Linked DNA regions of Homo sapiens: region 1 is linked to region 2. Evidence: fine-mapped expression QTL. Tissue or cell type: blood mononuclear cells. Region 2 holds a variant in brackets; the other region holds the start of a gene. All regions are shown on one strand. Distances are from middle to middle.

Evidence for each region. PIP is the estimated chance that this variant, and not a neighbour inherited with it, causes the effect.
Region 1: it holds the start of RAB3GAP2, and the variant in region 2 is fine-mapped to the expression of RAB3GAP2 in blood mononuclear cells (TOPMed, PIP 0.97).

Annotation. Positions count from the first base shown.
Region 1 is chr1:220,269,582-220,274,734 of GRCh38, reverse strand. It overlaps RAB3GAP2 (RAB3 GTPase activating non-catalytic protein subunit 2), which reads left to right and starts at 2,282. Exons shown (of 35, transcript NM_012414.4): 1 at 2,282-2,512. The coding sequence starts at 2,398. RefSeq lists an enhancer at 3,687-4,188.
Region 2 is chr1:220,194,094-220,199,246 of GRCh38, reverse strand. RAB3GAP2 (RAB3 GTPase activating non-catalytic protein subunit 2) reads left to right here. Exons shown (of 35, transcript NM_012414.4): 10 at 2,849-2,997; 11 at 3,870-3,949; 12 at 4,080-4,169. Among named protein-coding and RNA genes, the nearest start is that of MIR664A, 3.9 kb to the left of the region's middle. The variant TA/A (reference allele first, on the strand shown) is at 2,843.

The DNA of each region.
Region 1 (5,153 bases), 75 kb before region 2:
GGTACCTGGACTCATCCTGTTGTTATTTTGGTCACAGTGCTTTTCCTACCTCCTGAACCCAGACCTCGGAGAGACACTGTCAATGCTGGGATATGTAAGGCCTGCACATTTTTGCAATGTGCTTTCTTATGACTGTGGAATAAGTGATATTCACTGTCTGATGCAATCCTCCCACATGCCGCAGAAACCATGGTAGCAGAACTCCAGAGGCATCCCCCCCTGTTGCATTACAACTTCCTGGGGGAAGAGTTCAGTTCATGAATGTGTTGTAATTTCTGTGAAGGGTATCTAAAGTCCTTAAAAACATCCATGAATGATCCTTTTCAACAGTACTTGGAAGGAAGTCAGGGACTTCACCATTAAAACTGAGCCAACACAGTAATGAAATTCAATGACCACCACAGGAGACATATGAATGCCTCAGGGAAGAACAAAGGCCAGCAAAATCAGCCAACAGCAGTTACTTCCACAAAATGCATTTACCTGAATAGGAACTTGAATGGTTTTCAAGGAATGACAGTCTCCTTCCAGAAAGTGTCATGTGTTTGTTATTCGTCCAGTAACACTAAGAATCTAAATTTAAATTTTGGTTTAGTTTGGGATTGGTGCTGGATTTTAGGGAATAATCTTATCAGGGCTGGATTATTCTAGTTAGTGATGATCTGAGGAAACACTGCATTTCTTCAGATGGAAGAAGGGAGCACTGGCAGCTTGCTTTTTCTGAAAGCTTTGATTACAGAAGTATAGGTCCCTGATGCTTAAAGGGACCTTACAGCACATCTGATTCAACTGCCTTTTATAGGTGAAGAACTGATTCCTGTTAACCTGATAACATAGAAATTGCCTATCCTATTTTGTGAAAATCATCCTACTCTAGAAGTAGGAAATAATGGAGTAGGAACCTGGGCACTAAATTATAGTTGTTATATTATTAGGACTAAGTGTGTATGTCCACGGGCCTGACAGAAATGAATGCTCTGGACCCCATCCACTTGCCTTTCATTTGTTCCTGTGCCCTTTTTTCATACAAAGTGGATGGCCTCTTTAGGTTTCCTTTAGGAAATGTGTAAGTGCCTACAGGCCTTTGTGCTCACATTAAAATAATTTTTTTTGTTTTTATTTTTTGGAAAAATAACTTAAAGTCTGCTCAGAGACAGCTCAATTTCTTTATTTTAAAAATGGGATAAGACACACTATTTTTAGATGGCATTTGTGACTATCCAAATGAACAATGTAAAGTACTTTCAAAAATAGTGCTTTGTCAAAGAAACAAGTTATTCTATTTACTTTATGTATGCATTCCATTTATTTCTTCAGCAAATATTTATGAAGCACTTACTAGCATGATCACAATTTCAGTTAAATAGTTAAGTACAGTAGTCCCCCCTTTATCCATGGGTTCATTTTCCACATAATTATTCAATTTAATTATTAGTTATTGTTAATCTTTCACTGTGCCTAATTTATAAATTTAACTTTATCATATATATGTATAGGTAAAAACATAATACACATACATAGGTTTCAGTACTATCCATGGTTTGAGTCATCCACTGGGGATCTTAAAACATATCCCCTTGGATTAAAGGGAAATACTGTAATTAATTGCTTACTGCCTGTATCAGTCACTAGAATTCCAGCTTTCTGGGAAAAGGTACTTCTTCTCTTTTGTTCTCTAATGCTCAGCACCCTGCGTGGCTGGCATTTAAAAGACTAACAAATATTTGTTGAATGGATGGATGAATGCATGAATGAAAAACCAAATGAATAATGAAAACAAAAGTGTATAATACACTATAACACGTACTATATTGGGCTTGCGTAGTACTATGGGAATCTATAGTAGGAGCATTTAAAGCCAGCCTTGACGGGGCTAATCTCCGGAAGAGCAATTAATCTTTTCAAAATCCGACTCTTGCAGGATACGGTCCCCCACTGGCCTGCCACTAGTTTAAAACGAATTAGTTTCTGTGAAACATCAGGATCGTGCCAATAGTAGGGGACCAATAAGACTGAATAAGTCAAAGGGCTGCGCGGACAAGTCCAATTAGAACACCTCTGGCTAAAAGCCAGAATGAATGAAAGGGTTCATGCCTCGGCGTAGACACACAACTGGGACTGAAAAATCTGCCCCAAGCCTCCACGTCGACTTTGGCTCCACCTGCAGCGGCGGCGCCGTAGTCACGTGACCCGGGCCCCCGCGCCCTAGGCGCCTGGGCCAGCCTGCGCCTGCGCAGTACTCGGAGACAGCGGACCCGTGTCAGTGACAGCTTCCGGTTTGGTTTCTCCGCCTTCTGCTTGGCTAGAGCTATTGGGGCTCGGTGGCGGCCGCAGTGGGGTGGAGGGGGCAGGGCGTGGTGAGGTAAGGTGAGTGCCGTAGTGGGGTTCCCTGGAGCCATGGCCTGCTCCATTGTCCAGTTCTGCTACTTCCAGGACCTCCAGGCCGCCCGGGACTTCCTCTTTCCTCACCTGCGGGAGGAGATCCTCAGCGGCGCCTTGCGGAGGGACCCCAGTAAGTGCCTCTCTGGCCTCGCCCTTCCTTCCCTCGTCACCCGCGGCCTCTGCTCACGGGTTCGAGTCTCCTACTCGCTCTGCGCCTCCTGCCTCTGCCCTCTGGACCCCCAGTTCTCCCCGTGCCTCCCCTCCGCTCCGGGATGACACCCTGCCCACCTCGTCCTGAAGCCCCATTTGTGTTGTCTTCCTCTCGACCCAGCTTTTCTCCTTAGGCCCTCTGACCCCTGGCTAAAAACTGCGTCTTGTTTCCTCTCGCCTCTGCCTATCACCGCTTTCTCCCTCCCTCCCCCCACCCCCACACATTCCTAGCTTTCTCTCTGAGTATCTTCTCCGTCTCCCATCTTCAGCCTGGGGTCGTTCCCTGTTTCATGTTGCCTGCTCCGTGATCGCATCCTCCCCGTTCCTTGCCACATGTCAGCGCTCCACTCTGGTATTGCCCCAGCTCCCACTCTCTTCCATCCCGGAGACTGTGGCCTTCTGCTACCTCCCATTCCGAAAGTGTTGATCATCCCCCCACACTCTCCCTTCTTTCATCTGCATTTCCCCCATTCAGATTTTGAGAACAAATGGCTGACAAATGAGTGACTCTTGAGGTAAGACTCTCTCAAAGAAGGAAAATAACCTGTCAGGAAGTGAACGAGAATCTACATTAGGAACTAAAATTACAGTGACATAGCCAAGAAAGGTTAATTTGCTTTATTGAAGCCTTCCACCTATTTTTATCATCAAAGTGTTTAATAAGCCTTTCCCCAAGTAGTATAAAGTTCCAAGGCTGGTTTATTAGATACTATATAGGCTTTCAGAATTTCGTACATTTCATTTTGAAAGGGTGTGCCTTGTGTTTTATTTTATTTTATTTTATTTTATTTTATTTTTGCATTTCCAACCTGAAGCACATTTGGCTTTGTAGTACAGCGCTCTCACTTTGTGCTATACCGGAATGGTGATATAAAGCCCACTAAGCTCCTCTCCCTTTTTTAGAAAATTTAGAAGATATCAAATCGAACCCATCTGTGAATGATTGCATACTTTGTGCCAGTCATTGGTGCTACAAACCAAATAAGGTTGGTGGACCCTGCTGTAGGAACTTCTGGTTTACAGACAAATCATTAACTTCCATTCAGTGTGACTGAGATATACATGAGGCATTTTCTTGAAGTGGTGATACTTAAGCCTACCTTTGAAGTACTAGTTAGAGGAGTAAAGGAGCAGTAATAGCATGTGCAGAGGAAGGGAGGCCTGAAATGGCATGGTATTTAGAGAACTAAGAAAAGCTGAATGGCTGGAGAGGAGGATGGGAGAGGAAGAGTTGGGGCAATGAGGCAGTAGTAGTAATAAGGAGCTAGACCATGAGAGGCCTTGTGAAAATTGTGGCGTTTCTCTGAAAGTTTAAGTAGAGAAATGACATTGTCAGATTTGTACTTAATGTAATCAACAACATTTGTTGAAGACCTGTAATGTGCTCTGGTAGCAAAGTGGAGGAGAGATTGGAAGAAGGGAAATGGATTGGGAAGCTCTTCCAGTAATCCAAGCAAGAAATTATGTGAGCTTGAATTAAGAACCTTAGTAGGATGAAGATGAAGGACTAGATTAGAAAGACGTTAAGGAGTTAGAATCTGCAGGACCTTGTGAAGGTCTGGTGATGGGCATTGTAACTAGTAAGTGAGGGGGAGTTTAGGAAGTCTTTGGCTTGTGGTTTGGGCAACTATATGTAATAAGAGAATGAAGGATACAGATTTTCAACCTTTTGCATTTTAAATGTTTATGGTATGTCCAAGTAAGGACATCTGGTTGAACACCAGATATAGATAGTCTAAACAGTAGGGAGTACTGGGCCAGAGATGTTAATTGGGGAGCTAACAGCAAAAAGTGTCAGTTCAGTCTCAAGGATTATGTATGTTGTGAAATGCACTGAGTACTAAAGCTGTAAGCTTAGAGGAGCACTGGTGTTTAAAAGTCAAGTAGAGGTTACTGGGAAGAAGACTGAGAAGGAGTAAAAGAAAGAGGAAAATCATGTGAGAGTAAGGCCCTCGGAGCTGAGGAAGGCGAGAACTTGATGAGGGTGAGGAATGGTCAGCAGTTTTGCAAATGCAGCAGGGGTCAGGTAAGAAAAGGATAGAAAAATGCTTATTGGTTTTGAGAAGGTGGAGGTAACTTGGACCTTAGGACAGTTTCAGTAGGATAGTGGAGGCAGAAAGCATAGTTATAGGATAAGGGGTTAAAAAGTGAAATATACTATTTCAAGGAGCTTGGCTGTGAAGGATAGCAGATGCAGGATTGTAGATAGGGAATGTAGAAAAAAGGAACAGATTTTCTTTATCCTTCTACCACTCTCCTGGTCCAGGCCACCATCTTTTCTCAACCTGGGCTATGATATGATATGTGTCTTCTTCTAGCAATTCTTCCTGCTTTTGCTCTTGGTTTCCTGTAATAATTCTCAACAGTAGTTACAGTGAGCTTTTAAGGCATAATTTAGATCACAACATTGCCTTTTTTTTTGAGATGAAGTCTCACTCTGTTGCCCAAGCTGGAGTGCAGTGGCATGATCTCAGCTTACTACAACCTCCACCTCCTGGGTTCAAGTAATTCTTCTGCCTCAGCCTCCTGAGTAGCTGGGACTACAGGCATGCGCCACCATG
Region 2 (5,153 bases):
TTTCTACCTAGATGTCAAACTTAACATATCCAAAATCGAGTAATTTCCTCCTGTCAAACTTGCTCCTCCTTTTTTTTTCTACATCATCTTTCTTCTTCTGGTTGCTCCTTACCGTGACATACAAGGCCCAACTTTATCTGGCTTATGGTACCTCTGACACTGTCTCCTGTAGGGTTCCCCTCCCTGTTCATTGTGTTTCATCATGTAGATCTCCTTTGTGTTCCTCAGACACAGCAAGCATATTCCTACTCTAGAGCATTTAGAATTACTGCTCCCTCTGCCTGGAAAACTTTAGCTAGTCACATGGCTTTCTCCCTCTCTTCACTCAGGTCTCCTTATATATCACATTGTCAAAGAGGCCTTCATTAGTCACTCTACTAGGCCTAGAAAATTATCCAATGAGTTTGACTTTATGGAAACTTATATTGAGAGGGACTTTGATGTCTTTCAAAGTGTGGGAAGGCCTCAGACGCTCAGGGAAAATTCTAAATGACAAGGTAATAATAACTCCAGAAAAAAAAGAATGCACAGCCAAGGAAATGTAATTACAGTAAGTAGCATGTCTCAGCAGTGAGTAATGCTTATATCATTCCTAATAATAAAAACAGTGAATTTAATAAAACGTTGAGATACAAATATTTTGGAAGGATATAGGGCGAGAAAGAGAGATGTAAATAAGCCATACCACCTTAAGTTAATGAAAAATAGTGCTAAAATCAGTGACTCGAAAGATAAAAGCCCCCTAAATTCAGTACCAATGTGTAGCAATATAAAGGGCAGAAAAACACTTTAAATAATACTATAGGAATGTGGTCAGCTGTAGACTGTGGGAAATTAGTCTCAAACAGCCTTGTTGCTTCAACAAATAGATTTCAAAGGATCGAGGATGGGAAGGAAGGGTTGAGGAGGTCAGAAGGATTTTGGACCAAGCTTTATGTCCATTTGTTTGTGGTTCTTACTTTGAAACCCAGAGGTATTGTTTTTCTTAGCAATGATCAGCTATTTTGCTTCAAGAGCAGAGAATGCAGAAAGTTTAGGTCAACCAAGATTAAGATTTAGCCAGAGGAGTATGTGTGTAGGGGGAAACGAGTGTAGGGAGGTTGTGGATATTTGCAAGAAAGTGATGATGATGGAACACAAAGCTAAGCTGGATGGAAAGGGAAGTGATCCCAAGAGGTACTTGATAAATAGTGGAAAAAATAGTAGGATTAATTAGTTTAAACTCGAAATTGTGAAATTACTGCAGGGAGTTTCTGGAGTAATTGAGATGGAAAGCTAGGAGGTGGTGGTCTAAGTGTGGTAAGCTTGAAATCAAAAATACAAAGAATCTACAGTTGCTGATGACAGGATCTAAAGTGTGACATTGAAAATAGATGATTTAAGTTATAGGAAGGAAAACATCATTGGTAGCAAGGATGGAAAGGATTGATCAGCCATTTCCTTACAATAAATTAGAATCCTTTAAAAAAATTGCATATCTATTGCAAAATTGTCCTCTGGATTACTGTGTAGTAATTTATACTCCCATGTATATTGCATGGGAGTTTAAAAAGAAGCTGTTTTAAAACTTAAATTTCAATTTATGTGCCATATAGTTTGCCCTTTGATCGTGTTTTGGTGGAGTCAGGCAAAACTTAAGCAAATTTTGTAATGTAGTGAAAACATTTTGTATACTGAATCATGGATTCATTCATGACTATGAGATAGGTGTTCTGATCTTTTATAATGGTCTAGGAGGTGGGAGGGGAGTTTAAAAAATAGTCCAAGGATTTGTTTGATCACTTTAATTCCTATAAAGCCAGTGAATGGCTTGCGTATGAACTCACTCAAAGAATTTCCTTTCCTAGGACACGTCTTAAGGACGAATGCATTTTTTGACAGTTTTCAGGCAAAGGGGAGGCCTGAAATATATGTATATGAAATTTAGTAAGGTCAGGCACAGCAGCACACGCCTATATTGGCTGGGCACAGTGGCTCACACCGGTAATCCCAACACTTTGGGAGGCTGAGGCTGGAGGATCACCTGAGGTCAGGAGTTTGAGACCAGCCTGGCCAACATGGCAAAACTTCGTCTCTACTAAAAATACAAAAATTAGCTGGGCATGGTGGTGCGCGTCTGTAATCCCAGCCATTCGGGGAGGCTGAGGCAAGAGAATCGCTTGAACCTGGGAGGCAGAGGTTGCAGTGAGCTGAGATTGCACCATTGCACTCCAGCCTGGGCGACAGGGTGAGACGCCATCTCAAAAACTAAAAAAAAAAGAAGTGAATTGGTATTTGGGGATATAAGTGGACTGTATACTTCTGGTACCTCTGAGTTTCATATCTGTTCAAAAAATTAAATTTTGTTTTTATGATATTCTATAGATTATGGAAATTATAGATGGAAATTTTAATATTTATTATTATTATTTTTTTGAGATGGGGTCTCGCCCTGTTGCCCAGGCTGGAGTGCAGTTGGTGTGACCTCAGCTTACTGCAACCTCCACCTCCCAGGTTCAAGCAATTCTCCTGCCCCAGCCTCCCAAGTAGCTAAGATTACAGGCACCCACCACCATGCATGGCTAATTTTTGTATATTTAGTAGAGGCGGGGTTTCACCATGTTGGCCAGGCTGATTTCAAACTCTTGACCTCAAGTGATCCAACTGCCTTGGCCTCCGGAGTGCTGGGATTATAGGAGTGAGCCACCATGCCTGGCAGAATATTTTCTGATGTTGACTTTGTAGCTTTTAAAATGACTTTTGGTTATTAAATAAAACTAAACATTTAGCATCTTAGAATGGAACTGAAGTAAAAATGTAATGACCGCAATAACATTGTACATTCAAATCACTTTTTTTTTTT[TA/A]TTAGGTATTATGACTCTGTCCCCCTTTGATCAAATGAAGACTGCCTCCAATATAGGTGGATTTAATGCAGCAATTAAAAATAGTCCACCTGCCATGTCTCAGTATATCACTGTAGGGTCCAATCCATTTACTGGCTTCTTCTATGCTTTAGAGGTATGAGTTTTATCAATGATCATGAGTAAGGCTGCTCTTGATTTTACAATTTGTCTACAAATTGGATATGGTAACTTGCTTAGCCTTAGAAGATTAAGCAGTTTACATTTCTAAATTTCAATTGAAACTAAAATTAATCTCAACTAGCTTTCTTCTAAATTCTTTAGATTAACTGAAAAGGTACTACCATCAGTATAAAAGGAAATTCTTTGTTTCTGAAGCCCTGAGTTCTTTGATAGCTGAGATGTCTTTAAATATTGGTGCAATAGTCAGGAGCTCAGGCTTGTTAATGATGCCAGCCCACTAGGGATTTGAGTAAATGAGGAGTTGTAAAGACAGAACAAGCTGCCAACTATACTTGTTATAAGTGGTGAAAATTGCTTCCTAAAATAGTGGAAAGTTGAGTGTTAGATTTGGCAGCTCTTGTTTCTCACTTAAAAAGCATGCTTCTCAGAATTGTCCAAAATATCTTTTTACTTTTATAAAAATGTGTGTGTGTATATGTGTGTGCATATATATATATTTAAAGAGAGAAAGGAGCCAGTTATGTGTAGGTGTGAAATCCATAGTCCAGCTAGAATAATGTAATCTTAATGTCCTAGTTTAAAATTTATTTGAATGAAATTACAATTTAAAGAGAGAAATTCTAATGGTAAAATAGACTAATTGTGATTTTATTTTTAAACTATAGAGTTAAAACTTTTTCTCATATTACGCCTAAAATAAACTTTTTACTGTACTCTGAAAGAAGCTGAGTTGCTAGTCCAGCCTTTACAACTTTTCAAAGCATTTTAAAGTAAGCTTTATTTAGAAAGTATGTTTGTTTCTTTGTAAGCTACTAAGTTTTCTCTTTCAAATGTTCTGTTTTTCAGGGAAGCACACAACCATTATTATCCCATGTTGCACTAGCAGTTGCAAGTAAACTCACTTCTGCTTTATTTAATGCTGCCAGGTAATTACTTAACAATTAAAATAACAAATATCTCATTTGTATCTAGCTTGCTTTTAACTTATATTTTGATAGTTTGCACTTTAAAACCCTGGAAGCTCAGTTTTATATTCTAAGTTTTCTTTCTTTTCAGTGGTTGGCTTGGTTGGAAAAGTAAGCACGAAGAAGAAGCTGTCCAAAAGCAAAAGCCGAAGGTTGAGCCAGCTACCCCATTAGCTGTAAGGCAAGTCTGTCATGCTTCCCAAATTTTAGTCCTTTTAGAAAGGTACTGTTAAATGTATGGTCTTTCCGTGTGCTTGGTTGATTTGCTGATCTTGTCTTTGGAACTTCTGAAAGCCATTACAGTGGAATTTCTTTTCCCACTAGAATGTAAAACTCCATGTGAAGAGTGATTCTTACCTGTTTTGTTCACAGCTTTATCCCTGTTATATACTAGGTATTCAAGATGTATTTCTTGAGTGTGCTTTTTAACAAATAAACTTAGCTTAGTTGTAGGAGAATTAATTCAGTGATAGCTGTTAAATTTCTTTTAAAAGTTTAGATAGTTTGTTACTAAGTTGTATAAACTTTAAAAGTACTTAGTGATTTCTTTTTAAAAAAGTCATCCTAGTGGATTGCGGTGGCTCACGCCTGTAATCCTAGCACTTTGGGAGGCCTAGGTAGGCGGATCACTTGAGGTCAGGAGTTTGACACCAGCCTGCTCAACATGGTGAAACCTTGTCTCTACTAAAAATACAAAAATTAGTCAGGCATGATGGCATGTGCCTGTAATCCCAGCTACTCCGGTGGCTGAGGCAGGAGAATTGCTCAAACCCGGGAGGCAGAGGTTGCAGTGAGCCGATATTGCACTGTTGCACTCCAGAGTGGGGGACAAGAGCGAAAAACTCCATCTCAAAAAAAAAAAGTAAAAGCAGGAGTCCTGTATTCAGGCACTCTTTAAACAGACTCCTGTCCTGTGCTTCCTTGTTTACTTCAGTAGTGCTTTAGAATGTGTTAGTATATTGGTGAGTTTTTTTTGGTGGAGGGAGCATGATTTTTGTTGCTTTTTTTTTTCATTATTATTTTTTAGATAGGAGCATGTTTTCTAATGTTTGGTTTTGTTTTAAAATCATTTTTTATTACCTAATATAAAGTACCACCATGAAGGGAAATAGAACACCTCCTCTTTATGGATGTTCTTCACCTAAGAAGAGCCAACTAATTATTA